Linked DNA regions of Homo sapiens: region 1 is linked to region 2. The links come from fine-mapping of genetic effects on plasma protein levels. A gene starts in region 2. The other region holds a variant in brackets. All regions are shown on one strand. Distances are between the middles of the regions.

Region 1 (2,916 bases), 600 kb before region 2:
GAAGGAAGGAAAATTATAAGAATTATAAGAATTAGCAAAGTCATGTTTCTGGAACATTCTATTCTTTCTCCTGTGCAAGTGATTGGCCCACTCTGTGATTTAGACACCACCCTCCCCAACATCCTGTCCCAAACCTAAATTAGGGGCCTCCTGTTCTCATCCCTCGTAGCATCTTACCCATGTACCTGTGTGTGTAGCATCTGTATTTTTTTGTGAGAGTTGCTGTAACAAATGACCACAACCCAGGTGGCTTAAAACAGCGGAAATTCATTCTCACGTTGTTCTGGAGGCGAGAAATCTGCAACCAGGTATCAGCAAGGCCACACTCCCTCCTGAGATTCTAGGAGGTAATCCTTTCCAGGCCTCTTCCCATTCCTGGTGACTCCTGGTGTCACTGGACTTGTAGCAGTGTCATTCCAATCTCTGCCTCCGTCCTCACATGGCTTTCTTCCCTGTGTCTTTCTGTGTGTCCTCTCCTTTTCTAGGAAGGACACCAGTCATTGGATTTAGAGCCCTTCCTAATCCAGTATGATCTCTTCTTAACTAACAACTTCTGTCAAAACCTATTTCCAAATAAGGTTGTTTCTGAGGTTCTGGATGGACATGAATATTGGGGACTCTGTTCAACCCACTACCTTAGTTTGAAGTTTGTCTCCCACAGAGATCATGGGCTGTATGTGGGCTGAACCATCTCTCTCTTGTTCACTGTTGTATCTCCAGGCCTTGGCACTGTGCCTGGCACATAGAAGCTGCTCAATAAACATAATGAAACCTAACCTAACGTAGCATACTATAAGAGTGAAATTGAACTCTAGACAAACAAATTAGTTCAGATTTCTCTGGTCAGGCCAACCTGGGTTCAAATCCCATCTCTTCCACTCAGCTGTGTGTTATGTCACTTAAATGTGCCTCTGAGTCTCTCTAAATTCTGCTCCATCTGCAAAGCAGAGATAATAATACTATCTACCACATTAAGTTATGGTGAGAACTCAGTGAGAAAGTGAGCATGATAAGCTTAGCCTAGTGCTAGCTCAGAAAGCCCTGGTGTTAGCTGCTAGGATTATCGTACACCAAGCATTGCAGAGAGTAGCTCATTGCTGGAAGATGCCCCAAAGAACACCATCCAGTGTCCTATGGACCATGAGTAAAGCTTGCTGCCACTTGTGTAAAAAGAAGGAAAAGTGACTATATGCACATATTTGCTGACATATCCCTAAAGCATCTTTGGAAAAGTATAAAAAACTGGTAATATTAATTGCCTGGGCGGGGCATGGTGCCTCACGCCTGTAATCTCGGCACTCTGGGAGACCAAAGTGGGTGGATTGCTTGAGCCCAGGAATTTGGGACCAGCCTGAGTAACATGGCGAAACCTCATCTCTACAAAAAATAGAAAAATTAGCTGGGCTTGGTGGCACGTGCCGTGGTCCCAGCTACCTGGGAGGCTGAGCTGAGAGGATCACTTGAGTCCAGGAGGTCGAGGCTGCAGTGGGTCATGATTGTGCCACTGCACTCCAGCCTGGGCGACAGAGC[G/A]AGACCCTGTCTCAAAAAATATAGAGAGACAGACAGATAGATAGATAGATAGATAGATAGATAGATAGATAGATAGATATAGATAGATAGATAGATAGATAGATAGATTTGCCTCTGGGGAGGGCAACCACATGGCTGGAGTGAACGGGGGAAAGGAGTTTTCTTTTTCTCTAGCACATTTGTACATCGACTAATATAAAAATTATCTATTTAAAAAGTAAATCCGTTTTTACAACACAAGGTGCCCTATCAATGAAAATGATTTGAAGATATTAGGAGTGGGGTCAAACCCAGCATTCGAGTTGAGGGTGAGGGGCGAACGTGAGAATTGCAAACAGGTAGAAGGAAAACGCAGAGGTGAAAGATTTCAGGTGCAGCTTTTGACATGAACTGCCGTTCCTTCGAAGCAGCAGTTAATTTCATGAGTAAACGAGCTGGGAGCAGAACTCGTTCGCTGGGTGAACACCGGCCAGGCGGCAGATTCTGCAGCAGCGCTCTCCTGCGGGAGGGGCAGGTGGAGGCGGGGCCTTCCTTGGAGATCTCTGATAGGGGATCCTTCCCTCAGCACCCGAGGGAAAGGTCTTGAGCGCTCTGTAGCCCCGGACTGCGCGGGCCGGTGGCTTGCTTGTCGAGGCAGGCACTTTCGGAAAATTGCTTTTGACATGTATTCCCTTGTTTAGGTCTTGGCCATCCCCCGCACTCTATGTGCTCAGTGACCTTTGACATGAACTTGCTAACAAAGGTTACACCAAATCAAAATGGCATTCCAGAAGATTCTTTTCAGCAGCAGGTACTCCCTGACCTAGATTAAGTTTTCTCAAATGTCAAAACCCTGAAAAAGATACCGAAATTGACCAGAATCACTTGGGCAAAAAATACATATTTTTTTTTTTTGTGACCAAAGGAATGAAATCGGGAAATAAAAACAAAGGAAAACATAGGAGAGAGTGCAAAATCAAAGAGAAACATTCACTTTTGTAAAAATGTTTAAATTTTTTTTGCCCTTACAAAAATAAATAAACATTATTATACATAGCAGTGTTGGATTAAAACTAAGCCATGTGCAATGGAGATTTTGCCATAACTTGGCAGACAGAGAGAGAGTGTGTGTGTTTTAGTAAGGGTGAGGAGAGTATTAACAAGATGATGATTTTATGAGTTAGTTTTTCACTCTCTCCAAAGTGAAAAAGAACTGAATTGGAACTTTTATTGATAAACAAAGGTTTTTCATAGATTACAGTCTCTTAAAGGGAGTCATATTAGAATAAGCTTAGAAAATGTTCACTATTTTAAACGCACAGCCACTTATTTTGAGCTTTAAAAATTGCTTTCACATTTTTACTGTTACATTTCATGTTATTTGAATGGCAGAGAATTACTTAGCAT
Region 2 (2,916 bases):
TAACAACAACAATAAAAATGAAGTGTGTTCCAGTGTCTAAATATACACAAATAAATGCACACAAATATGACAAAGTACCAGAAACCAATGATCTAGGTGAAGGATATGCAGGGATTTACTGAATAACCCCCACGCTTCCCATATTTTTCCAATGGTTTGAAATTTTTCAAAGTAAGTAGTTGGGGACAAAATTCTAGGGTAGCTAAGATATTTACATATAATCTATACAAGAGAGACTGTCATGGGTTACTCAGTCACAAATTCCACTAGTGACTTTTTTTTTTTTTTTTTTTTTTTTTTTGAGACAGAGTCTTGCTCTGTCACCCAGGCCGGAATGCAGTGGTATAATCTCAGCTCACTGCAACCTCTGCCTCCCAGGCTCAAGCGATTCTTGTGCCTCAGCCTCCCGAGTAGCTGGGATCACGGGCATGCGCCACCACGCTCAGCTAATTGTTGTATTTTTGGTAGATATGGGGTTTTTTCATGTTGATCAGGCTGGTCTCAAACTCCTGGCCTCAAGTGATCCACCTGCCTTGGCCTCCCAAAGTGCTGGGATTACAGGTGTGAGCCACCGCAGACAGCCACACTAGTCACTTTTATTATAATGAAAAATAAGCATTGATTTTTATAAGCAAGCTCCCCATTTACTGCTTGTTTCATTTCTTTTTTCCTGTTCTACTTAAAATTTAAAAAGGGCATAGCAAGATGAAAACACAACCTTGAGCTTCACTTTCTTTATGTCTGGGTAAATTTTTTTTTAATATGGTAGCCATTTTAACTTTTCTTTTCTTTTTTTTTTTTTTAAGATGGGGTCTCGCTATGTTGCCCAGGCTGGACTCAAACTTCTGGGCTGAATTAATCTTCTCACCTCAGCCTCTCCGGTAGCTGGAGTACAGGTATGTACCACCGTGCCTGGCTTCTTTCACCTTTCTAAATAGTGAATCTTTTTTGATTCATGACAGGCATGAAGTCTGTCTGAAAGCTCCAGCTTTGCTCACATAATGCACAAGTTAACATGAAAATAACATGTAAGTGCCCACTGTGGGCTCAGCACGGGAGGCTGCAGGCAAGGGTCTGGGCTCTGCTGTTGGGAGGTGAGCACAGAAACCAAATAGGACAGTTAGAGTGGCACTGAGTGTCTTTGGGGTCCAGAGAAAGAAGGAATTAGCGGGGGCTGAGGCAGACTCGCATCTTGCTTCAGGAGTTTGCTGGACGCAAAATGATGGACGGCGCTGTCAACCAAGTAAGCTGATTTCTACTACAAAGTCATTTTCACCCATCTTGGATGCAAACTGGTAAGGAGCTTTACAACACATCTATTTCCCACACTTAAACTTATGTTAAACTTTCCCATCTCCAACTCACACGTCACTGGTATTCAACCTTTATTAGAAAGTCACAACTAAAGCTGGTCAACACCCTTAATCATCACAGCTTGCTCCCCGCCAGAGCCCATTCAAACAGCCCCACATCACTCACCTTGGGCGCACAGTCCATGATGCCTGTTCCCTTCATGTCGGTGATGTGGAGCAGCTCCCCTGAGCTCTGCAGCTAGTATCTCCAGCTTCAGAGGCAGATTGTGCAATGTCACTGCATGCTTCTGGCTGGTTCTCAGAAACTGAATTCTATGGAGCTATCTGACAACACATGGGAAACGATCAAAAAGACTCTCCCAGCAGGCAAACTTTCTGGAAAGCACGATAAGAGTAAAATGAAAGCAGTGAAGCAGGGGAGGACCAGAAATACAAGCCACACTCACGTCTCAATGCCTGACGTCTCACTTTGTCTGTAAGTAGAGACTGTCACTCATTTGCTATGTGAAACCACAAAAGAAGAAGAAGAAGAAAAAAACACCACTCTTCTGCTTTATAGGGCGAAGTTCCTACTTCGAAGAGCTCAGTGTATGAACACACAGCATTCTTGTCCTTTGAACTCTGTGGAACAACTCCAACCGAACAGACCAAGCTCATTTCCCTGATGAGAGGCCACTAGGCCAAATTTCTGATAGCGGTCAGCATTTCTTCCTTCCTGCTCCCTAAAACTTGCCTTATGACAGCCAGGATAAAAGCAGTCAAACAGGCTGCCTTAAAGGACACAGTCTCCACTCTACCCACCCTGTCAGTTGTGCATTCACCCTGCTCGGAACCCCATGCTCATCTCCTGGTCTTTGCTCATGGTACCTAATGAATAACATCTTCTGGGTACTGGCTCTGCACTGAGGGCTATGCTGAGCCCCGCACCTGTATTCTCTCTCTTAAATCAAATAAACTTATCGTGTGTGTTGTACTTGAAACCCCTGCTAGCTCATGCAGTTTATCATCACTTGCCAACTCTTTTTACTTTTCCTAAATTCAGATCCAATCTCTAGAGAGGACCTACAGCATAGCAGACACTGAGCAAAATAAGTCTGCATTTTTTTTTTTTTTTGAGACGGAGTCTTTCTCTGTCACTCAGGTGGGAGCGCAGTGGCGCAATCTCGGCTCACTGCAACCTCCACCTCCCGGGTTCAAGTGATTCTCCTGCCTCAGCCTCCAGAGCAGCTGGGATTACAGGCACCCGCCACCACGCCTGGCTAATTTTTGTATTTTCAGTAGAGACAGGACTTCACCATGTTGGCCAGGCTGGTCTCAAACTCCTGACCTCAAGTGATCCACCCACCTCAGCCTCTCAAAATGCTGGGATTACAGGCGTGAGCCACAACGCCTGGCCCCGGCCTGCATTTTTATTTAGACAAAATGGTGCCCATTCTTCCAAGCCAGGCTCAAGTTCTATCCCCAACCAGCTGTGGGGGATAGCTTACCGCTATCTTCTTGTCAGACAGCATTTTTTAATTTTTTATTTTTAAATTTTCTTTTCTTTTACCACACCTCTGAGGCAAGTTCAACAGATAGCACTTAGCGTCTTGTCCTCTGGTTG

The links. PIP is the chance, under the fine-mapping model, that this variant and not a neighbour inherited with it causes the effect. Protein levels are from the aptamer-based SomaScan assay of Sun 2018.
Region 1: its variant is fine-mapped to the plasma level of the CASS4 protein (Sun 2018, PIP 0.95).

Annotation. Positions count from the first base shown.
Region 1 is chr20:57,013,109-57,016,024 of GRCh38, reverse strand. No RefSeq gene overlaps it. Among named protein-coding and RNA genes, the nearest start is that of BMP7-AS1, 200 kb to the left of the region's middle. RefSeq lists a silencer at 1,176-1,339. The variant G/A (reference allele first, on the strand shown) is at 1,531.
Region 2 is chr20:56,411,058-56,413,973 of GRCh38, reverse strand. CASS4 (Cas scaffold protein family member 4) reads right to left here and starts at 1,714. Exons shown (of 6, transcript NM_020356.4): 1 at 1,480-1,714. The coding sequence starts at 1,515.